Linked DNA regions of Homo sapiens: all the other regions are linked to region 1. The links come from fine-mapping of genetic effects on plasma protein levels. A gene starts in region 1. Each other region holds a variant in brackets. All regions are shown on one strand. Distances are from middle to middle.

Region 1 (8,188 bases):
TTCTGCTTCCAGGACAGAGACAGTGAGGTTTGATGCTGTCTTGAGCAGCTCCGCCTTCACAGTCACCTGTGAAGGGCAGTGTTCCAGAAGCTCCACCCCAATAGTCACATTTCCTCCGGGCCTGATGATCCCTGGGGCTGTCACCAGAAACCGAGGCCTAAAGAGTTCCCAACAAGGGAAAAACAAAGTTTCTTATCCTCACATCTCCTTTCTTTTGTGACCCTCAGATTTCCTAGTGCGATAGGCACTCCATACTGCGCCAATTGCAGTTGTTTCCGTTAACATTGCCCACTGCTCTATTTGGCAACTGAATTGAAATGCTACTGAAACAACAATAATTCCCATAAATCAATTTTAATGCAGTAATTCATGCATCACTACTAGAGGAAGGCCTGTGTTATTATTTCCATTTTATAAACCACGAACCGCACAGAAGGAACCATGATGTAAATGGCTTGCACCGGGGCATAATGGAGTTATTGGCAAAGCAAAAGTCTCTAAGCTTCTCCTTTACAGAGGACCTTATCCCAGCGTGATTATTTTCTTGTTGTTGTTGTTATTTTTTAACTAAGATTTTGCCTGTTTCTTATTCAAACCTTTATCCTTGAGTAGCTGCCCAACGAGGGTAAAAAATTATTTAACCAATACCATTGATTGAAATATACCATTTGAAAATAAACTACAACTGGTGAAAATTCCAGGTATAGCGAATCATAAAAGAAGTCACTAAAGCAGCACTTTCTCTGCTATAACTAGGGGTTAGGGCTCAACTACAGAAATCTTTAGGAATGAATGGGGCTTGCCATTATTGGGTGCTGTTGTTTTCTTCCTATAATGTCTGCCCCTGAACCCATACATCAGTCCCCTCCGCCACACTTTGGCAATGCTAAGGTTGAGACATCTTGGTTAGAAAAAATATATCATGTCTTTGAGAGAAGAATCGCAATCTGGGAGCAAAAAGTTGAGAAGCAAAAGGCAGAGGCAATGTGGACTAAAAATAAAATGACTCTCTTCAGAAAGTTGTTATGGCCGGGGAGACGCTTAAACAACTTCATGAGTGGAGAAAGTTAACTGTCCCATGGAGAGCCACGCTGAAGCTACATATGGTCAAACCTCCAGGCCAGTACCAGGCTGGGGACTGCAGCCGCGAGGGCATTTCCCACCCGCTGCTGCACAGCAGCCGCCACCTCCCCGAAGCCCTGGCCCAGAGCCGCAGAGCGGCCCAGGCCCGCGCGCCCGCGCGCCCCCCGCGCGCCCACGTTCCTACCCGGGAGCCACGGCCAGCGCGGCGGTGCACACGCAGAGGAGGTGGGCGGCGGTCAGGAGCGGTGGGCCCTGCATCTCGACGGCGTCTGCCTGGGCTACAGTCCGCTGCCGGGGAAGTTCGCGGGCACCGTGGGGTGTGGCTTGCCACCTCCTCCCTGATTTTTTTTCCCTCTTAATTCGAGTTTAGTAATCTGAAATGGGCGCGCCTAACAGCAGAGTGAGAGATCTAAATTGAGACAGGACTTGGAGGCTCCACCCCTCCCATCCCCATTACAATGGCGCTTCTCGCTGCTGTGGCAAACATCGCAAATCCAGGGGGTGAGAAAGCAGTTGCTAAACGCAGGCGGCCCCACCTGGCCCGGCGTCCCAGCTGGCCGCGGAGAACAGAGCGCGCCCACTTCCCCGGCCCACCGGGTTCCTCAGGCTGTTTACACTAGCGCTCTACCAACGATGCCCAGGGTGAGTAAACAGGCCCATCCTTGTGAGGAGAAATTCATAGCAACTATGTGAAGTGGAAAAAAGTCAATCATTGTCCTCCAGACTATGAGTCAGAATTTTAGAGAAACGGCACACACACACACGCACACACACACGCACGCACACGCGCGCAAAACCGGGGCGTATTTCCTGGGTAGTTATTTAATGTATATGAATGGAAACAGAAAAACTATTTTTCCTTAAAACAAAAAATGAGGTCTACTGCTTTCCTTTCCAGGAAAATGTTATGATTTATCACCTTAAAAAAAAAAAGAAGAAGAGAACTCGCACTGCAGACGTTAGGTGTTGCTACTTGGAACCCTGAAAAAAAATTACCTAAGAAGATGCCTTTATATTTTTGCTACAGAAAGAATTTGGTAGAACTGTAAAGCTTGGAGCAATCTCTGAACACAGTTAGGGTTGGGTTGGCTCTCCTGTCAGAATGAAGGCCAGTGGCCGGTGGTGCCCAGGAGTTATTGATGCCCAACGCTGTCTGGCTTCTTTGCAGCTCCTCTCTCCTGCTCTCTGGCACTGCCACCATCTTCAGATGACTCAGGTTTCACCATGACTACACCATAAAAGCAGGGAACTGCCAGAAACTGTTGGAAAACAGACACATTCAGTCCCTGACAACTTAAACTTTCTAATTCATGGAGCGGTTTTAGATGGTAGCATTCTAATATGGGGCAAAATGCAAACGGAAAAGAGGTCAGCAAAAAGATGTCTCATGACAAAGCTATGTGCTAAATAAGGAAAAGTGAGAAAGTAGCACCTAGACAAACTGTGGTTTGGGGAATCCAGAAACTTGCTTTCCTCCCTTTCCTGTTCCACCCTTTTTCTCCCTGCTGAACAGCTTGCAAAGGTCCTTATGTCCTTTCCTTCAGGCAGCCTATCTTTAGTGGCCAACTTCCTGTGCAGGCAGGACTTAGGAATGGTCAAAAGTGTCTGTGTGGATCCCTGGGTGCTGACCTGTTCCTGACACAGCTGTTACTACTGGTCTCCTCACCTCCGTTGTTCAGAGAGGAGGACCATGGTCAAGGGTGGGCCAAGCACCAAGGTCTAACTCAGTGCTTCTCACATGCCAATGTGTGTGAGAATCACATGAAAACAGACTCTGACTTGGCAGGTCTGGAACGAGGACTGGGATTCTGCTTTACTTTAGCAGACAGTAGGCCATGGAGACTCTACAAGTGGGGGCAATTTGGGGGCAATTTGATGAGCAAAGGCAATTAAGAACACAGAAAATTCTTCTCAATCTTTCACTTCATAAAGGTGGATTAATAAATTCAGGTTCATTCTAGAGGTAGGCAAACATAAGAGGGACTGCAAAAGATTAGATGATAATGTTGCCTCCCGAGAAGACTTACAGAAAGTCTTAGAACCACATTGTATAAATCTGTGTGGATTTTAAAGTGATGCCACCTTCCTGTTTATGCCCTCCTTCCCACAATACACACTTGTCGAAAGGCGTAGTCATGCAAAAATTTAGGCATATGGATTTGCATAGAGATGAGGCTATTACATGCCTGGCACAGAGTAGCTATTCAATAAAAATGTGTTAAAAGGATTAATGAAAAATGTTCATCTCAGAAGTGGGATTTTTTATTAAGAAAAACTGAAAATGAGGCCAGGCGTGGTGGTTCACACCTGTAATCCCAGTAATTTGGGAGACCGAGGCGGGTGGATCACCTAAGGTCACGAGTTCGAGACCAACCTGACCAACATTGTGAAACCCCATCTCTACTAAAAATACAAAATTAGCCAAGTGTGGATGGTGGCACATGCCTGTAATCCGAGCTACTCAGGAGACTGAGGCAAGAGAATTGCTTGAACCTGGGCGTTGGAGGTTGCAGTGAGCCGAGATCGCAGAATTGCTCTCCAGCCTGGGCAACAAGAGCAAAACTCCGTCTCAAAAAAAAAAAGAAAAGAAAAGAAAGAAAAGAAAAAAGAAACACTGAAAATGGGCCGGGCATGGTGGCTTATGCCTGTAATCCCAACATTTTGGGAGGCTGAGGAAGGCAAATCACTTGAGGGCAGGAGTTCAAGACCAGCCTGGCCAAAATGGTGAAACCCTGTCTCTACTAAAAATACAAAAATTAGCCCAGCATGGTGGCACATACCTGTAATAAAAGCTACTCAGGAGGCTGTGGCATGACAATCACTTGAACCCAGGAGGTGGAGGCTGCAGTGAGCCAAGATGGTGCCACTGCACTCCAGTCTGGGTGACAGAGCAAGACTCTGTCTCAAAAGAAAAACTGAAAATGGTCTGAACATGTAACAATAAGATATTGGGTTTGCTGTCATTTGGATGTTTGTCGCCCAAAGCTGATGCTGAAATTTGATCCCCAGTGTTGGAGGTAGAGCACAATGTGAGATGTTTGGGTTCTGTGGGTGGATCCTCATGAATAGATGAATGTCCTCCCTGGGGGTCGGGGGGTGAGTGAGTACTCAGTTCCCACAAGAATTGGTTGTTAAAAAGAGCCTGGCACCTCCTGCTTCTCTTGTTTCCTCTCTCACCATGGGATCTCTGCACACTAGCTCCCCTTCCCCTTCCACATGAGTGGAAGCAGCCTGAGGACCTCACCAGAAGCCAAGCAAATGCCAATGTCATGCTTCTTGAACAGCCTGCAGAATTGTAAGCCAAGTAAACTTTTTTTTTTAATAAATTACCCAGCCTTGGGTACTACCTTATAGCAACACAAAACAGACAAAAACAGGATTAAATAAATTACAGTATATCCATGCAATGGAATACTGAAATAATTAAAAACTATTTGTTTAATTGGAGCTTGTTTAACCATCTAGAGACAAATATTCATATGTTATTAAGGAGGGTATATTAGTCTGTTCTCACCCTGCTAATAAAGACATACCTGAGACTGGGTAATTTATAAAGGAAAGAGATTTAATTGATTCACAGTTCCACATGGCTGGGAGGCCTCACAATTATGGTGGAAGGCGAATGTGGAGCAAAGTCAAGTCTTACATGGTGGCAGGCAAGAGAGCATATGTAGGGGAACTCCCCTTTATAAAACCATCATATTTCGTGAAATTTATTCACTATCACAAGAAAAGCATGGGAAAGACCCACCCCCAAAATTGAATTACATCCCACTGGGTCCCTCCCGTGACATGTGGGAATTATGAGAGCTGCAATTCAAGATGAGATTTGGGTGGGGACACAGCCAAACCATATCAGAGGGGAAGTCTGTTTTATAAAACAGAATTTAAATTTCATTTTATTTTTATAAAAAATAAAGTGTATTTATGTGTACATAGACATTACAGATCTATGCACTGAAGAAAGACTTGAAGGATATTCACCAAAATGCTATTATCAGTATCCTGGTGATTACCTGGATATGCCAAGTTTCCTACAATAAATATATATTATATCTCCTTTAAGAAGAAAACAATAATAATATTATTTTAGTAAATAGTTTTTGAGGGGGCATCTTAGAAGCTCTTTTGCATAAAACTTCTGAATTTTGATACCAAAAATATCATCTATGCTTATTGCATGAAAACCTAATGGTCTCTTGGATAAGAACCCCACACTGTTCCTGTGTCCCTCCTGAGCTGTCTTTAAGGTGTTGATATGGTTTGGATCTGTGTCCCTGCCCAGATCTTATGTCAAATCCCCAATTTCGGAGGTGGGGCCTGGTAGGAGGTGATTGAATCATGGGGGCAGATTTCCCCCGTGGTGCTGTTCTTGCGATAGTGAATCTTCATGAGATCTGGTTGTTTAAAAGTATGTGGCACCTCCCCCCACCTCTTTTGGTCCTTCTCCTGCCATGTAAGATACCACGAGCCCATACATCAGCCCCTTCTGCCATACTTTGGCAATGTTAAAGTTGAGACCATGAGTAAAAGCTCCCTGAGGCCTCCCTAGAAGCAGATGCTGACATGCTTCCTATATAGCCTGTGGAACTGTGAGCCAATTAAACTTCTTTTCTTTATAAGTTACCCAGTCTCAGGTGTTACTTTATAGCAATGCAAGAACAGAGTAATTCAATGAGAAAGGCAGAACCACTATGAGTGAGACAGACCCTAAGCAATCATGGGAGCTGGTAGGGCAGTTTGTGCAAACCATTGCCCCTGTGTGTGGTGTGCAGCATAACATAACTATGAGTCAGCCAGGGGAGAAAAGCTAAATGTGGGTAAGAATAAAGAAAAACTGATTGAGAAGTGGAACCCATGTCCATCTTACCACCTCCAACTTCCATGTCATGAGTAACCTGCAGGAGAAGCTGGTGTCCTTTGTCCAGAGCTTCATGTACATTTGGCCCACAATTCAGAAAAACTGAAGGAAGAGAGCCTCTGAGAACTAAAGGAGCTACAGGCCTGACTGTGGCCCTGAACCCACAAAGTGAACTGGCACATTAGTAACAGTATGGACAAGTGTTCCCAACTGCCTAGCACTCTAAACCAAGCTTCAGAAAGTAAAAAATACAGGTGTATGGGGTACCCCACCTCCCCTTTATAGTCTGCTCTGTCCATAACACCAGCTGGAGGCTTTCCTGGGGCCACCTGAGTCCAGGCCCCAATCAGATGGACATTGGAAGGGGTGAGACCAGGACTGGCAGGGAGCAGTTAGTTGCCTTTCTAGTCTCCCTCCCTAGCCATGCACTTTTGCCTTTAGAAAAATGATGGGGAAAACCTTGGCTCCTTCTTTGTCCAGAAAGTGTTAATTGCCTGTGGGTTCTGGTGGCCGGGGAGAAGAGCAGGAAAGCAGAGAGCAGGTGGGTGGCTGAAAGGGAAGAGGGGAGGAACACGGCAGAAACATGAAGGTGACCCTATCTATTCCCCTGGAGAAGGGGTGAGAGGTCAGGTAGAGTAGCTGCTCAGTACACAAAATGTAGAAAGATGATGAGAAAAAAAAATCTGCTACAGTCTTACCACTACCCAGAGACAAGCATTATTTCATTTTGTTGTGTTTCCTTCCTCTCTTTCTTTCTCCACATAATTTGCTGGTATCTTTTTTAAAGAGTAATTATGTTATAAATATAATACAACTTTGTGCTTTGTGTCCTACTTTTCCCATTTAATTATTCCATCATAAGCATTTCCTCATGTTTTACAAACCTTTTTTAAATAAAATGTTCATCAGCTGCAGCCGGGCACGGTGGCTCACGCCTGTAATCCCAGCACTTGGGAGGCCGAGGCGGGCAGATCACCTGAGGTCAGGAGTTTGAGACCAGCCTGACCAACATGGAGAAACCCCGTATCTACTAAAAATACAAAATTAGCAAGGCGTGGTGGCACATGCCTGTAATCCCAGCTACTCAGGAGGCTGAGGCAGGAGAATCTCTTGAACCTGGGAGGCGGAGGTTGCGGTGAGCCGAGATCACACCACTGCACTCCAGCCTGGACAACAAGAGCGAAACTCCGTCTCAAAAAAACAAACAAAAAAAATGTTTATCACCTGCATAATAAAACAAACAAAAGGAATAAAAACATTTTCAGAAATGGAATGGCTCAGAAACTTCGCCTTTCACAAATTCATTTTAGGAAGTTACTTTAGGAAGACATATTTAGCAACGAAGTGAAATAAGCCAAGAAAAAGGGAAATGTATATATAACCCCAGAAAAAAATGAAGAGAGAACTTCTAATAGGAAAAATTCCAGGAGTAAGCTCTTAAGGGAAATAAAAGGGATCTTAATCGAATAGATGTACATAATGAAATACAAGAAAACTGAGACTATGATAAAGTAAAATAGTGCAGTAAAAAGGAAGGGAATTTAGAAATTCAAGGGAAAAGCAAACACTGAATAAAAAAGAATATATCATGATTCATTAGTTGGCTTTGCAGTGAAAAATAATTAGTTGTGTTGATGTAAGTATGGTTTACTGATTTATAACAGAATAAAAGAATTGACAAAGAAGATTTAATTACACTGTTTCACCATTTCTAAAATATATGTTTTTCACATTTGTAACATTTCTGATCTTATAATCAATGGTATCATAATAATAATTGACAATAAATTTTCTTTCTTGGTATTAAAGTAAGTGGTGTATCTTAGATTTGATGAAATATGTGAAATACACAATGTTTACAAAACAATGTAAATGGTGTTAATACTTGAAAAGAGCACAGATGACAAAAACTTACAAAGTCAAAGAGGGATGAAGAATTAAAGCATTGACTGAGACACTAAGAGCCTTATAAAGTAAAAAAAAAAAATGTGTCTACAGTTTTCTTGGATCAAGAAATATGTCATAAGCATATTAAGACTATAAAGTAGTGTAAGGATATAAGAAAAACTGAACCAAAGTGGTTTTCCCACTTTTATACACTCAATATAACACACTGGCCACCAAAATGCATAGAAGAGCTTCTCCCATGCTGACCAAGCAATCAATTCTCTGGCAGATTCTACAGCAGACTCAGCTGAGCATCCTCTAAGTCAATTCAATCCCAACACAAACTACCTGGAAATA
Region 2 (8,188 bases), 550 kb before region 1:
CCAGTAGACTAATAAGCCAAGACTTGTTTGCATGTGATTTGTATATTTGGAATTCTTTTCATTCATCTTGTCTAATTTAATCTTCTCAAAGTTTTCATGAATTAGAGAGATTCCTATTTTTCATTTAATAGATGAATAAACAGGTTCAGGGACTGGCTCAAGTTCACATGGCTTTTAAATGGTGAAATCCAGGTCTTCTAACTCCATAGCACACTAACTCTGTTTCCTACACCAACATGCTGTCTTTCCTGGAGAAAAATATGTCATTTTGGACGGTTTTGTCTATAAAAATAAGAAAAAAATTATTTTGTTTCACATAAAGATGCGTTTGGCATTTTTAATTATGATTGTGAATCAGTGACAGTAAAGAAGAAAAACCAAGGGTAACTGCTGTGTGTCTGTTAAAATGTGTAGAGCATAAAGATACAACTTAAAGTAATGTATTTTCCTGAGAAGATAAATGAGTTTGTACATGCATTATCTCATTTCCTGTGGCAAAGCTTTCTCATCCTGCTTTAAGCACAGACTGGGACATCGAGCCAGCAGGTAACTCCTGATGGAATCCTGGCAGGAGAATTCTGGCTTTACAATAGCTTTCTATCACCCACAAACACTAAGGGAATATGCAAATATTCCATGGAGATCTAATGACTGCAAAAGTGGAATAAATTATGAATTACCTTTTTTTAAAAAAAAATCACACCACACTGTCTTTTACTTCATACATAACCTTGACTTCTTTCTAATTCATGTAAATAATCTGGCTACTAATTCATGAGGAAAAGAGAGAATTTTTTTTTATTCCTAGCATATTGCCTAGTTTCTGGCACATAGGTGCTTCATAAGGGCAAAAATTCAGTATAAATGTACCTATAAAATATTATTTATTATGAAGAAAACCTCCCACTTTCCCACTTGCCTTCTAAAGAAGTAGATTGTTTGATGATCAGTGTGGTGGGTATGAGGATAAAAAGACAATAAAGAAAAGCATGAGGAAATATAAAGATATAAATATTTGATAAGAATTCCAGGAAGCAGAGAAGGATAAAATGAAACTGGAGAACCTGCAATGATGAGTTTCAACAGAAAAAGCAGACAGAAGCTAAAAAAGAAGTTGGAGAGGGATGGAACAAGAACTTTTAGTGGCTTTGTTTTTGAAGGTTTGCTTTATAACCTATGACACTACATTCTGCATCACCCACAAAATCTTTAGTATAGATGTTATACTCTAACACTGTGAAATTGGACTTGTTTGGGAGACATGTACAGATATTCTAAGTTTACTTCAAGGAGGGCAAAGAAGTTACTTAGATCTGTTTCTACTAGCTTAGCTTAGCTTACAGGATCTTTTCATATGTGTAAATTCATAGACTTTTAGAACAAGAAAGATCCTCAGAATTCCTTATCTAACCTTCTAGCTGTACAGAAGAGGAAGCTGGAACACAGAAAAATTTAACTGACTTTTACTCTGTTTCATCAGATCTAAGTGTCATTATGAGATGCACCATTTTTACTACATCACAAGGAAAGAAAATAGAATACTATTAATTAATTTATACACAGCTTTTTTATTATTTAGAACTTTGTTATAGCAATTCTATTGAAAAAATAAACTTTTTGTAATTAAAAAAGTGGCATTAAGAATAAAATACCGGCGTTACTTCTGAGGGCTCTGTTCTGTTCCATTGCTCTATATCTCTGTTTTGGTACCAGTACCATGCTGTTTTGGCTATTGTAGCCTTGTAGTATAGTTTGAAGTCAGGTAGCGTGATGCCTCCAGCTTTGTTCTTTTGGCTTAGGATTGACTTGGCGATGCGGGCTCTTTTTTGGTTCCATATGAACTTTAAAGTAGTTTTTTCCAATTCTGTGAAGAAAGTCATTGGTAGCTTGATGGGAAAGGCATGGAATCTATAAACTACCATGTGCAGTATGGCCATTTTCACGATATTGATTCTTCCTACCCATGAGCATGGAATGTTCTTCCATTTCTTTGTATCCTCTTTTATTTCATTGAGCAGTGGTTTGTAGTTCTCCTTGAAGAGGTCCTTCACGTCCCTTGTAAGTTGGATTCCTAGGTATTTTATTCTCTTTGAAGCAATTGTGAATGGGAGTTCACTCATGATTTGGCTCTCTGTTTGTCTGTTATTGGTGTATAAGAATGCTTGTGATTTTTGTACATTGATTTTGTATCCCGAGACTTTGCTGAAGTTGCTTATCAGCTTAAGGAGATTTTGGGCTGAGACAATGGGGTTTTCTAGATATACAATCATGTCGTCTGCAAACCGGGACAATTTGACTTCCTCTTCTCCTAATTGAATGCCCTTTATTTCCTTCTCCTGCCTGATTGCCCTGGCCAGAACTTCCAACACTATGTTGGAAGAGGGCATCCCTGTCTTGTGCCAGTTTTCAAAGGGAATGCTTCCAGTTTTTGCCCATTCAGTATGATATTGGCTGTGGGTTTGTCATAGATAGCTCTTATTATTTTGAAATACGTCCCATCAATACCTAATTTATTGAGAGTTTTTAGCATGAAGGGTTGTTGAATTTTGTCAAAGGCTTTTTCTGCATCTATTGAGATAATCATGTGGTTTTTGTCTTTGGCTCTGTTTATATGCTGGATTACATTTATTGATTTGCGTATATTGAACCAGCCTTGCATCCCAGGGATGAAGCCCACTTGATCATGGTGGATAAGCTTTTTGATGTGCTGCTGGATTCGGTTTGCCAGTATTTTATTGAGGATTTTTGCATCAATGTTCATCAAGGATATTGGTTTAAAATTCTCTTTTTTGGTTGTGTCTCTGCCCGGCTTTGGTATCAGAATGATGCTGGCCTCATAAAATGAGTTAGGGAGGATTCCCTCTTTTTCTATTGATTGGAATAGTTTCAGAAGGAATGGTACCAGTTCCTCCTTGTACCTCTGGTAGAATTCGGTTGTGAATCCATCTGGTCCTGGACTCTTTTTGGTTGCTAAGCTATTGATTATTGCCACAATTTCAGAGCCTGTTAATGGTCTATTCAGAGATTCAACTTCTAATGCCGCATATCTACAACTATCTGATCTTTAACAAACCTGAGAAAAATAAGCAATGGGGAAAGGATTCCCTATTTAATAAATGGTGCTGGGAAAACTGGCTAGCCATATGTAGAAAGCTGAAACTGGAACCCTTCCTTACACCTTATACAAAAATTAATTCAAGATGGATTAAAGACTTAAACGTTAGACCTAAAACCATAAAAACCCTAGAAGAAAATCTAGGTATTACTGTTCAGGACATAGGCATGGGCAAAGACTTCATGTCTAAAACACCAAAAGCAATGGCAACATAAGCCAAAATTGACAAATGGGATCTCATTAAACTAAAGAGCTTCTGCACAGCAAAAGAAACCACCATCAGAGTGAACAGGCAACCTACAAAATGGGAGAAAATTTTCGCAACCTACTCATCTGACAAAGGGCTAATATCCAGAATCTACAATGAACTCAAACAAATTTACAAGAAAAAAACAACCCCATTAAAAATGGGCGAAGGACATGAACAGATACTTCTTAAAAGAAGACATTTATGCAGCCAAAAAACACATGAAAAAATGCTCATCATCACTGGCCATCAGAGAAATGCAAATCAAAACCACAATGAGATACCATCTCACACCAGTTGGAATGGCAATCATTAAAGTCAGGAAACAACAAGTGCTGGAGAGGATGTGGAGAAATAGGAACACTTTTACACTGTTGGTGGGACTGTAAACTAGTTCAACCATTGTGGAAGTCAGTGTGGCGATTCCTCAGGGATCTAGAACTAGAAATACCATTTGACCCAGCCATCCCATTACTGGGTATATACCCAAAGGACTATAAATCATGCTGCTATAAGGACACATGCACACGTATGTTTATTGTGGCACTATTCACAATAGCAAAGACTTGGAACCAACTCAAATATCCAACAATGATAGACTGGATTAAGAAAATGTGGCACATATACACCATGGAATACTATGCAGCCATAAAAAATGATGAGTTCATGTCCTTTGTAAGGACATGGATGAAACTGGAAACCATCATTCTCAGCAAACTATCACAAGGATGAAAAACCAAACACTGCATGTTCTCACTCATAGGTGGGAATTGAACAATGAGAACACATGGACACAGGAAGGGGAACATCACACTCTGGGGACTGTTGTGGGGTGGGGGGAGGGGGGAGGGATAGCATTAGGAGATATACCTAATGCTAAATGATGAGTTAATGGGTACGGCACACCAGCATGGCACATGTATACATATGTAACTAACCTGCACATTGTGCA[C/A]ATGTACCCTAAAACTTAAAGTATAATAATAAAAAAAAGAATAAAATACCATAGATTAAAATAAGCTTAAGACATTTTAACCAAATATAGTATGTGAACCTTGTTTAAAACCTGATTCCAACAAATGGATTATAAAAATTAATTTTTTATGCCACTCCCTTTTTAATAAATGGTGCTAACTGACTTGCTACATGCAGAAGATTGAAACTAGACCCCTTCCTTACACCATATACAAAAATCAACTCAAGATGACTTAAAGACTTAAATGTAAAACCTAAATCTATAAAAATTCTTGAAGAAAACCTAGGAAATATCATTCTGAATACAAGTCCTGGCAAAAATTTCATGACAAAGATGCCAGAAGAAGCTGCAACAAAAGCAAAAAGTAAGTGAAACCTAATCAAATTAAAGAGCTTCTGCAGAGCAAATGAAACTATTAACAGAGTAAATAGATAACTTAGAGAATGGGAGAAAATATTTGCAAACCATGCAACCAAATAGATCTAATTTCAAGAATATATAAGGAACTTAAACAAATGAACAATAAAAAAAATAACCTTATTAAAAAGTGGGCAAAGAACATTAACAGATGCTTTTCAAAAGAAGACATATACATGGACAATAAACATATGAAAAAATTGCTCAACGTCACTAATTACTAGAGAAGCACAAATCAAAACCACAGTGGGAGAAGTGGAGCAAGATGGCAGAATAGAAAACTCCACCAATCATCCTCCCACAAGGACACCAAGTTAAAAACTATCTACACAGAAAAAAACACCTTCATAAGAACCAAAAGTCAGATGAGGACTCATGGTCCTGGTTTTAACTTCATATTGCTGAAAGAGGAACTGAAGAGATAGAAAAAACAGGCTTGAATTTATGGATGCTACCCCTTTTCCACCCCTGGCAGAGTCTACATGGTGCAGAGAGCTTCTCTGGGCACGGGGGTAGGAGGAACAAAGCGATTGTGAGGCACTGAACTCAGCGCTGTTCAGTTGGAATAGAAAGGAAAGCCAGACCAAACTCAGCTGATGTCCACCACAGAGGGAGCATTTAAACCAGCCCTAGCGGGAGGGGAATCACTAATCCCAGAGGTCCACAGTTGAGTGCCCACAAACCTCACCACCAAGGGCCAAAGTGCTGTCAGTATCTAAGTAAACTTGAAAAGCAGTCCAGGCCATAAGGACTGCAACTCTTAGACGAGTCCTAGGACTTAACTAGCCCCAGAGACACTGGACTGTGAGGGCACGCAACATACTAAGACACCAACCGGGGTTGCCAATAGAGTATTGGCATCACTTCTCCTCTAACCCCAGGATGCATAGCTTGTGGCTCTAAAAAAAGCCCCTTCCTTCCACTTGAGGAGAAAAGAGGAAAGAGTGGGGAGGACTATGTCTTGCATCATGGATACCTGCTCAGCCACAGGAGGATAGGGCACACGTAAGAGACTTGAGGTCCCTTGTTTCAGGCCCTAGCTCCAAGACGATATTTCTAGACACACCCTGGGTCTGAAGGGAAACTGCTGCCTTGAAGGAAAGGACCCAGCTCTGCCAGCATTCATCATCTGCTTACTGAAGAGCCCTTGGGCTCTGAATAACCAGCACAATACCCAGATACTACATGGAGGGCCTTGGGCGAGCCTCTGAGACTTGCTGACTTCAGGTGAGATTTAGCACATTACCAGCTGCTGTGGCTATGGGGCAAAATGCCTTCTGCTTGAGAAAATCAGAGGGAAAAGGAAAGGGGACTTTGTTGCGGACCTTAAGTACTACTGTGGCCATAGTGTGGTAGAGCACCAAGCTGGGTTTTGGGGTCCCTGATTCCAGGACTTGACTCTTGGATAGCAATTCTAGACCTACCCTGGGCCAGAGGGGAGCCCACTGCCCTGAAGGCTGAGTCCCAGGCCAGGCAGCATTCACTACAAGCTGACTTCAGAGACCCTGGGCCTTAAGGGAATACTGACAGTAGTCTGGCAGCATTCCTCATGGCCTGGGGTAGCGATGGCTATGGGTTAAGGCTCCTCTTACTTTAGAAGGGAGAGGGAAGAATCGGAAGAACTGCATCTTGCGGTTTCAGTGCCAGCTCAGCTGCAATATGATAGAACAACAGGTAGACTTCTAATATTTCTGACCTTAGTCCCTGATTCACTGAAGGCACTTCAGCAGCCACCTGGGGCGTGGGGGACATCACTGTCCTGAAGGGAAGGACACAGGCCTGGTTGGCTTTGCCACCCGCTGATAGTAGAGCCCCAGGGCCATAAGCAACCATAGGAAATAGCCCAGGAGTGGTTATAGCAGGCCTTGGGTGACACACTGCACTGTGCTGGCTTCAGGTATGACCCAGCACAGCCATAGTGGTGGTGGCCACAAGGGTGCTTGTGTCACTCCAACTCCATCTGTGGGTGTCTCAGAACAGAGAGAAAGACTCTGTATGTTTGGGATAAAGTAAGACAAAAGAACGAGAGCCTCTGTCTGGTAATCCACAAATTATCCTGGATCTTTTATCCAAGACTATAAAAGTCGTATCTCTATGAGTCTGAAAGAACCACAGCATTATTGGGCTCGGGGTGCCCTCTAAAACAGATACAGTTTAAATCAAAACACCCAAGTTCATTCAAATATCTGGAAAGTCTTCCCAAGAAATATGGCTACAAGTAAGCCCAGACAGTGAAGACTACAATAAATACGTAACTCTTCAATGCCCAGAGACTGAAGAATATCTACTAGCATCAACGCCACCCAGAAAAACATGACCTCACCAAGTGAACTAAATAAGGCACCAGGGACCAATTCTAGAAAAACAGAGATATGTGAACTTTTAGACAGAGAATTCAAAATAGCAGTGTTGTGCAAACTCAAAGAAATTCAAGAAAATATGAAAAGGAATTCATAATTCTAGCAGATAAATTTAACAAAGAGATAAAATAATCAAAAAGAATCAAACAGAAATTCTGCATCTGAAAATTGCAATAGGCATACTAAAGAATGCATCAGAGACCTTAAAAAGAAAAATTAGATCAAGTGGAAGAAAGAATTAGTGAGCTTGAAGACAGGCTATTTGAAAATACACAGAGGAGACAAAAGAAACAAGAAATAAAAAACAAGCACACCTACAAGATCTATAAAATCTTAAAGAGGAGGTAGAGAAAGAGATAGGGGTAGAAAGTTTATTCAACAAGATCGTAACAGAGAACTTCTGAAACCTAGTAAAGATGGCAATATCCAAGTACAAGAAGGTTATAGAACACCAAGCAAATTTAACCCCCCCCCAGAAAAAAACTTCCTCAAGGCATTTAATAATCAAACTCCCAAAGGTCAAGGATAAAGAAAAGATCCTAAAAGCAGCAAGAGAAAAGAAAAAAAATAACATACAAGGAGCTCCAATATGTCTGGCAACAGACTTTTCAGTGGAAAACTTAAAGGTCAAGAGAGAGTGGCATGATATATTTAAAGTGCCAAAGGAAAATAACTTTTACCCTAGAATAGTATATCTAGCAAAAATATCCTTCAAACATAAGGGAGAAATAAAGACTACCTCAGAAAAACAAAAGCTGAGGGATTTCATCAATACCAGACCTGTCCTACAAGAAATGCAAAAGAGAGTATTTCAATCAGAAAGCAAAGGACATTAATGAGCAATAAATAATCACATGAAGGTACAAAACTCACTGGCAGTAGTTAGTGCACAGAAAAACGTAGAATATTACAACACTGTAACTGGGATGTGTACACTACTGTTATTCTAAATAGAAAGATTAAATTATGAGCCAATCAAAAATAATAACTACAACTTTTCAAGACAAAGTACAATTAAATATAAATATAATAAAAAGTTAAAAAGCTGAGGAATGAAGTTAAGGTGCAGAGTTTTT
Region 3 (8,188 bases), 890 kb before region 1:
ATATTACTGTTGCCAGTGCTATTCCCCTAGCATTTCAATAGTGTCTTTCCTCTCTTGAGTCTTTTCTTATGTTCATCTTTTGGTTAGTTGGCATATTTGTTCAAAAAATGTTTTCCAGAGACATGTAGATGACAATAGGGTTTCTCTTGAGGTGGAGGGGAACTACCTTCCTCCTTCTGATCATTTTTTTCTTGCCCTAGAAGCTTAGGCATAAACAAGGGTCATTTCTTAATCCAGCATATTAATTCTATAGTTAAGATAATTTATCATGTAATTGACAAGTCATCAGTCAATATCCTGCATTTCTAATATTTTGAGATTTATGAATTTTTTGAATGAGTCTTAAACATGGAAAGTTGGAGAATCTAATCTCATCCACAATCAGAATTAAATATTAAAGTTTAGGAAGAAGACAGCATCTCTGAGATTTCTGTGTTTATATTGCAAGGGTCATAAAACTTTTTCTCTAAAAGGCCAAATTGTAAATATTTTAAGCTTTGTGGGATATACAGTCTTTGTCACAATGACTCAACTGTGCAGTTTCTGTGTGAAAGCCGCTATAGACAACATAGAACAAATGGATGTGGTTGTATTCCATCCGACTTTTTCAATGTCAGGTGTCACGCCAGATTTTTGCTCCACTATCAGTGTTTTATTGACTCTTCCTATAGTCCATTGCAATGTCATGATTAAATTGACACCATTCTGTCAAATAGTCTGTTACTGAGTTTCTGTGGCTGGCACAAGGCATTGGGATATTTGTAATGATCCCTGATTTCATGAAGTTTTCAGATTTCAGTCATGCAAATAGCCTAAGACCATAAATTGATTACAACCTTTGTCTTCAGTACAGCTACAATGTATTGATTCACAGCTATTTAGCAGAATGATGACAGACAAGATGTACATGATATTTTCCATGGAATAATATCATCAATGAGTATAGTCAATTTGCCCTAGTTATTACACCTAATTAATTCTTATTCTCAAGGGAATGAATCATGGCTTGAAGGTATGCATTAATAAGGTGAACACTCTGCTGATGCTGACCAATAAGAAGAAAATATTAAGATTAAGTTAAAATTGAGATGAAGTCATAGCCAGTCCAAACATGCTGGTTTGGAGTAACATGTTGGGCTAACATAGCCAGTCAAAACTTTCTATTTGATTAAAAGGTGTACAGACATTCAGGACAGAGCTGTGAGGGCAAGACAAAGATAAAACACCCTAACATTGGAGTTTGAATTGGGCCTCTGAAAGAATTTCCTTACCTACTGAGTAAATGTTTAAAAACATCCATTATTTTCACTATCGCTTTCATTATCCACTATCCATAATCACTATTCATTATCCACACATCCATTATGTTCATTGTGGAAGAATGAAGTTCTCCACCTTTGGTAGTTCAAATCATTTTCCTGAACTTTGAGAAAGACAAGCAGATCAGTGGGCATGTTCCTTGGAGAGGAGCAATGATATAACTCTCATTGATGAAAATACCTCAGGGTATTTTATTTAATTAGTTAATTTATTTATTTTTAAATTTTTATTTTTGGAGGATCATATTAATTTTCAATTGCTGTCATAGTGAAATCATAAACTTACTGTCTTAAAACAACAGAAATTTACTACCTTACAGTTATGCAGGTCAGACATCTAAAATCAAGGTGGTGGCAGGGCTGCATTCTTTCTGTTGGCTCCAGAGGAAATCTGTTTCTTTATCTTTTCTAGCTTCTAGAGGCTGCCTGCATTCCTTGGCTGTGATATGTTCAGGAGGCCAGGAAATACTGGGTAGAAGAGCATGGGGTCCCATGCAAGGGCTCCACCCTCAAGCCTGGGCCCCTGGCCCTAAATGAGAACTTCACATCCCTGTTTTCCCACCCGAATGCTGCTTTTTGGCTTGTCCTCCCCGCTATCCTATGCCCATATAAACCCCAGATCTCAGCTGGCAGAGAGACAAGCTGCTGGATATCAAGAGGAGAAGAAACTACTGAGAGTTGTCAGAGACTATGGATAGACACAGCTTAAATTCAGATGGCACAATTTCAGAGAGGAGGTGTCCAGGCTTTAGGGGAAGATCACCTTCTTCCCACACCATCCCCTTACCAGCGCCCTTCCACCAGAGCCACTTCCATCACTCAACTAAAAACTCTGCATTCATCACCTTGCAAACCGTTCATGTGACCTGATTCTTCCTGGACACCAGACAAGAATTCGGAATGCACTGAGTGCAGGAACACAAAAAGACTGTCACACTGGTCCTTTGCCCTTGCTGGCAGAGGGCAGCCACCCCATGTGATGAGGCAAAAGCCCTGCTGAGTTGGTAACACACCCTTTGGGGCACTGGGGATTGCCGGCACCCCCGCTTCCTGAAAGTCAGCAATAGAAGGCCGAGTACCTCTCATCTCACATTAATCTGACCTTCTCTTCTGTCCCACTTCTTCCACTTTTAAGGTCATTACATTGGATCCACCTGCATAATCCAAGGTAATCTCCATATTTTAATGTCATCTGATTAGCAACGTTACTTCTCTCTGCAAACTTCATTCTCCTTTGTCATATAGCCTAGTATATTTACAGGTTCAAGGAATTAGGATTCAGCCATCTTTGAAGCCATTTTTTCTGTGAAACACAAGGATAAAGTTATGCATAGAGTTAAATAAATTAAATTGAACTTTCCAATAGAGGTATTGATGGGTCCCTAGTCATCCTTACATCTGGTGTACCTGAAGAACGAGGCCAAGCATTTGTTGGAGAATTAGAGTATGCACTCAATTTTATTCTCAAAGCCCTAATTAGGATATCTTATTTACTTAGTGGTTAAAAACATGGGCTCTAAAACTAGAGAGCCAGCACCTCCAGATATAAGGCCTTAAATAGCTGACTTAGCCCTATAATTCAGTTTATTCATCTGTAAAATGGGGATAATAAAAGATCTATTTACCTTGTATAAAGTTGTTGGAATAATCAGAAGAGATAGCATCTAACCTCTTAGAAGGATTTCTGGAACATGGAAAGAGCACATGTACCAAGAGCAAAGGCACAGGTGACTGACTTACTTAAAGGATAATTTATTCCTCCCTTAATATTGTTTGCCTGGAGCACACAGACAAGGAGATAGGGAGTGGGACAGGGTGGGTTTTCTTAACTTTGATCTGGTGTTCATATTATTTTTATTGTGGAAGAATGAAGTTCTCCACCTTTGGTAGTTCAAATTCAAATCATTTTCCTGGACTTTGAGAAAGACAAACAGATCAGTGGGCACGTTCCTTGGAGAGGAGCAACAAGAAAATGCTCCATGAGACTGCTCTTCCTTGAGATGACCTGCATCCCCCATTTGGTGCAGTTTGATATATGAACTGGTAGAATTTGGAATATTGAATTCCACTCATTTTTGTGGTACTCTAGGCCACTCTGATATCCTCTTAACCCCAAATTATGTTTAATTAATAGTAGCTAAAATTCTGCTCTGCCATTATCTTAGTTAACAGAGGTAAACATATAATTAATATCTATATTGATAGGCATAAGTATTTCCATATATTCTGACTAATATGCCTTTATGTTTTACTGCTTTGACACATACAAAAATCTATATCCTAAGCAATATTTCTGAAGAATTCCTGAACCAAAGGTGGTTACAAAATGTTAGAATAAAAAAATAAGGAAACCTCAAATAATTAAAGGATTCTTTCCTAGGCGTCTTTAGGCCGCACTGGCCAGGTTTGAGATTTTGAGATTGAAGATTCAGGACTTATTTTTTTTCCAGCTTTATTGAGGTATAATGGACAAATAAAAATTGTATATATTCAAGATGTATAACATGATTTGCTATACATATACTGTACATTGTGAAATGATTGCCACAATCAAATTAATTAACACCTCCATCACCACACATAGTTATTATTGTGTGTGTCTGAGGGGGTGAGAATACTTAGTATCTACTGTCTTAGCAAATTTCAAGTATGCAATACAGTATCACTAGCTATAGCCATCATGCTCTGCGTTAGATCCCTAGAACCCGTTAGTCTTATAACTGAATGTTTGCACCCTTTGGGTAACATCTCCCCATCTCTGCCTGCCTGGCAACTACCATTCCACTCTCTGGCTCTATGACTTTGACTTTTTTATATTCCACATGTAAGCGAGATCATGCACTATTTGTCTTTCTAGACTGAGAGCCTATTAAGTTACAAAGGTCATTTGCAATACAGCAATCAGCCTTGGCTTCTTTAATACCATGTTTTACACAACTGGGTTCAAGTCACAGTTATTGTGAGAAGATGGCATGCCTGTAGTAATTTTTTTGTACTTTCTAATGAGTATTTATTATTTTGCATGATTTTCTTTTGTAATTTGAATTATATGTACTTATCTGAAAGATGATGACAAACTAATATTAACATTGTTTTGGTGGTATTCTATGCTATTTCCAGCATCCTTGTCAAATGGTTTGTGAACTTTCTGCTCTATTTCCTTAGGCTTGATTAAAACAAACAAAAAGTTTATGTCAGTCATTTTTTGTAGCTAAATAATATATAAAATGCATAAGGAAATAATATTTATTGAGCAGACTATACGCCCCAGACAGCTTAATTTATTTCAAACTCACAACAGTCATTCAAGAGACACATTATTAAGCCTATTACAGTTTAAGAAAATGAGTTGGAGAGGTTAAGCAACTAGCCAAATTCAGACAGCTGGTAAGCAACTGAAGGTAGATTCCTGTGTAAACTCTGAAGTCTCTGACTCCAAGCCCAGGTTCTAGTAACCATATTACTCTGTCTTGTTCAGACCCCGTTTATCAAACTGAATGTGCTAGCCAGAGTGATGCTACCTGATAGTTATGAAGTACTGCAGTCAGTCTTAAATCAGAATTTCCCTGTGGATTTTTAGACCTGTAAATAGCACTCCATTTAACCTGGCGGTACATGAATGGAAAGCCCTGCACTCTGGCACAAGGACATTTCCATTACTCTGCTTTCTGCTGATTCAAAACATTACA[T/C]GGATTTATATAGTGGGAGTAACTGGATTATATGTGTGTCAAAGAGAGTCAAAAGAATAAAATAAAATATATACTTAGGAAAAAACTATATCCCTACAGAGTTCAGTATTAGAAGTTATATAAAATAATTGATGTTTACTTCAGATCTATTCTTCTAAACAAAACGAAACAAATCTACCAATTTTATTTGTCCAAAATTCATCATCAACAGGCTTACTCACTCAGATACTCCATTGTGTGGACAGACAGACCACTTGCACTCACCAAAAAGGTCTAACACGATATGGAAACATTATAGTTAGCCTATTTCTATTTGAAATTTTATATGCTAACAAAATAAACAATGTCTCTTGCATGATATGATTTCCATTCTACTAAGGTTTTCAAGTCTTTCTGCTATTATCTTATTTTACTAAGCAAGTGTTTATTCATTTCCCTGAGAAAAGAATTTTACTTTTTCCACTTCAATAGTCATACACAATCCTCCCCAGTTACTTACAGTGTAACATCTGGTATTTCTAAATAAAACACCAGAAAACCTCTGAATCATAGTAGGAAGAACTAACTAAAATATCAAGTAGTGTAGAAATGATATACTTCACAGAAGGGGAAAAAAAAAAACCTTCCTGCTTGATATAATTGCTCTTTAGAGATCACAAACAATGCTTACATTCTTGCATCTGTGTGGAACAGATCCTTTATGGCATTAAAGGCCTAACTGTTCATTTGATGCCCATGTGTAATTCCTTTTAGAGAAACTAAAAATAAGCTTCCAACAGGCTTACTCACTCACATACTCCATTGTGTGGACAGACAGCAAACAGGGGCAGAGAGCTAAGCCTTGACCCACTTACCACCCTCAGATGGTTCTGATCAATGTCTAAGAACCTATTAAAACCTTACTATTAGGGGATTAAAGGAAATAACAGATTCATCCTGGTTCCCCAGAGCTTTTGCCTTTTTTGGGACAAAATGGGCAAGGTTTTTTGTTTTTTTTTTTTGTTTTTGTTTTTTTTTCCAGATCTTTCCCTGAAGGTATGCCAATGAAATTATATACTCTCATCCTATAAAATGTAGTCAAACTTGATACAGAAACTAGTTCATGAAGATCCACAGAATTCCTATATTGTTACCTAAGAATTACATTTTAAATTCAAATAATACAAGAACTATTCTTTGTTCATGCAGTATATTTGCTTGCCTACAAAAATAATCAGAGTTCCCTGAGCCCTTGTGTTTCAGCAGTTTACAATATTAAATGGTCAACCCCCCTGAGTCCAGCTATCCACATTGCTTGCCCCCATCCTTCCTCCAGGCCATTCACCTGGTTCTCAGGCCTTCTCAGCTGTTCTTTCTGTTCTGCTTTTTGGCTATCACACACTGTCTCCCTTCCTGTTTCTAATGGGTAGATAATTTATTGCTCTCCCCTTCTTGTTACACAGCCTCACTATGTGAGCCCATAGATTCCTTTGTAGGTGGTATTCCTGTTGTTGGACCTGTGGTCTCTCTGGCTGCAGGAAAGGGGTATTGATGATACCTCTAGAAACCTAAGCCACAGTCCAGGCTCCAGCCCTGAGATGCAGGGTCCAGCCTCAGTTTGGCCTCTCACCCACTTAATATAAAAACAATTATCCAGTGAATGAGCAAAGCTATTCTTGGACTTAGAATATTTCTACTGGGCTTTAAAACTTTCCACCTTTATATTGACACAGTCAATAAGTTGCTCTTATATTAAGGCAACATAAATTTATTTTTAGCAAAATTATGCTGATGCTTGATCATTAGACCAAACTCACAAAAATGAAAAAATAAATTATAAGTATTTAGAACTTAATTATTGGTTTCCAGTTTGATACTGAGCTTAAGGACCTGATAAAAGTGTCTTTACATTTCCATCATTGACTGATCTTTCTACAGACAAGTTTACTCTGTTTCTATTCAAGCTCTGATAATCACTAAACCAAGAGGTTTACTTCACACCTTCTTTTATTTTCCTTGCTTCCCTATTGTACAATAGCAAAAGCCTGGACCGGTGGGTACACCAGAGATATCTTGTCCCTAGCCCTTCCTTAAATATTTCATATCCTCAGGTACTGTTTGCCCTCACTTGCTTTTCTTTCTCTTTCTTTTTGCCCTCACTCAGTTGCTTTTCTTTTTTTTTCTTTCTTTTCTTAGTCTTTTTTTTTTTTTGGTAGTGGCATGATCACGGCACAGTGTAGCCTTGACCTCCTAGGCTCAGGAGATCCTCCTGAGTAGCTGGGATTACAGGCGCCTGCCACCACACCCGAATAATTTTTTGTATTTTTAGTAGAAATGGGGTTTCACCATGTTGGTCAGGCTGGTCTCAAACTCTTGACCTAAGGTGATCCACCAGTCTCGGGCTCCCAAAGTGCTGGGATTACAGACATGAGCTACCGCAGCTGGCCTGAAGTGTATTTTCTAAAATAATCTATAAGTTCTCCATATAAGATCTTATTAAATACTTGAATCAATGACAAAACAATAAAATAATTTGTTTCTGATGCCTAAGAAAAATAAAGCTTTGCTAATAGTTACCATATTTGTAGATACATAGAATTTCAATTTAAAGGTTATGGTAATGGTTGAATTTTTCAACGTATTTCTTGATGGAATTTTTCCATATATAATCTGATTTTTCTGATGAATTATTTAATCTGTTTCAATGTGCTTTAAAATTGGGGGAAAAGGTTATGATAATGTATGGAAGCAGTATGGTGCTGTTGGTGACTCAAATTTAGGTATATTTATTACTTGGGTAGAAATTGAAAGAACTTGTAACATTTGCATTCTTTTGTATATAATTAAATACCACATGTATATATAATTTTAAATTTTTGCTAGCTTTTCACACAATTAACTTATTTGATCCTCTTAACAAATTCATAAGGTAGATGGGGTATATTTATTTTTAATACTATTTTGGAGACAAGTAAACTGGCATTAGAGGGGCTATATGGCTTTGGATTATGGTCTCATAAGTCATGCTCACTGGCACCATTCATTCCTTCATTCAAAAAATAGTCATCCCACTATGTTCCCATCACCCTTCTAAACAATGGGAATATGGTGATGAGCAAGATAAAAAATGTTTCTAAACTGATGTGCTTTAACCTCTGTTTCATCTGATAATAGAGATACCAAAGCTAAATAATTGTTTGA

Direction of the effects. Positions count from the first base shown, and alleles are read on the strand shown. Strength reflects both the effect of a copy and how common the allele is.
In carriers of allele A in region 2, the plasma level of the protein whose gene starts at base 1,354 in region 1 tends to be higher than with C alone (moderate association).
As copies of T replace C in region 3, the plasma level of the protein whose gene starts at base 1,354 in region 1 goes down (moderate association).

What was found. A credible set is the group of variants that fine-mapping cannot tell apart. PIP is the chance, under the fine-mapping model, that this variant and not a neighbour inherited with it causes the effect. The UK Biobank Pharma Proteomics Project read protein levels with antibody pairs (Olink). The fine-mapping took linkage between variants from a reference panel, not from the people measured, so its PIPs are less certain.
Region 2: its variant is the best candidate, but not a certain one, in a credible set for the plasma level of the CD109 protein (UK Biobank, PIP 0.52).
Region 3: its variant is the best candidate, but not a certain one, in a credible set for the plasma level of the CD109 protein (UK Biobank, PIP 0.67).

The regions. Positions count from the first base shown.
Region 1 is chr6:73,689,369-73,697,556 of GRCh38, reverse strand. CD109 (CD109 molecule) reads right to left here and starts at 1,354. Exons shown (of 33, transcript NM_133493.5): 1 at 1,268-1,354; 2 at 1-157. The coding sequence starts at 1,341. It overlaps CD109-AS1 (CD109 antisense RNA 1), which reads left to right and starts at 1,426. Exons shown (of 2, transcript NR_110889.1): 1 at 1,426-1,725; 2 at 1,982-3,654. RefSeq lists a silencer at 1,185-1,234 and enhancers at 797-1,511, 1,465-1,724.
Region 2 is chr6:74,241,492-74,249,679 of GRCh38, reverse strand. The region is part of intron 1 of LOC101928516 (a long non-coding RNA gene); the gene reads right to left. Among named protein-coding and RNA genes, the nearest start is that of CD109, 550 kb to the right of the region's middle. The variant C/A (reference allele first, on the strand shown) is at 4,315.
Region 3 is chr6:74,575,998-74,584,185 of GRCh38, reverse strand. The region is part of intron 2 of LOC101928516 (a long non-coding RNA gene); the gene reads right to left. Among named protein-coding and RNA genes, the nearest start is that of SNORD156, 550 kb to the left of the region's middle. The variant T/C (reference allele first, on the strand shown) is at 5,009.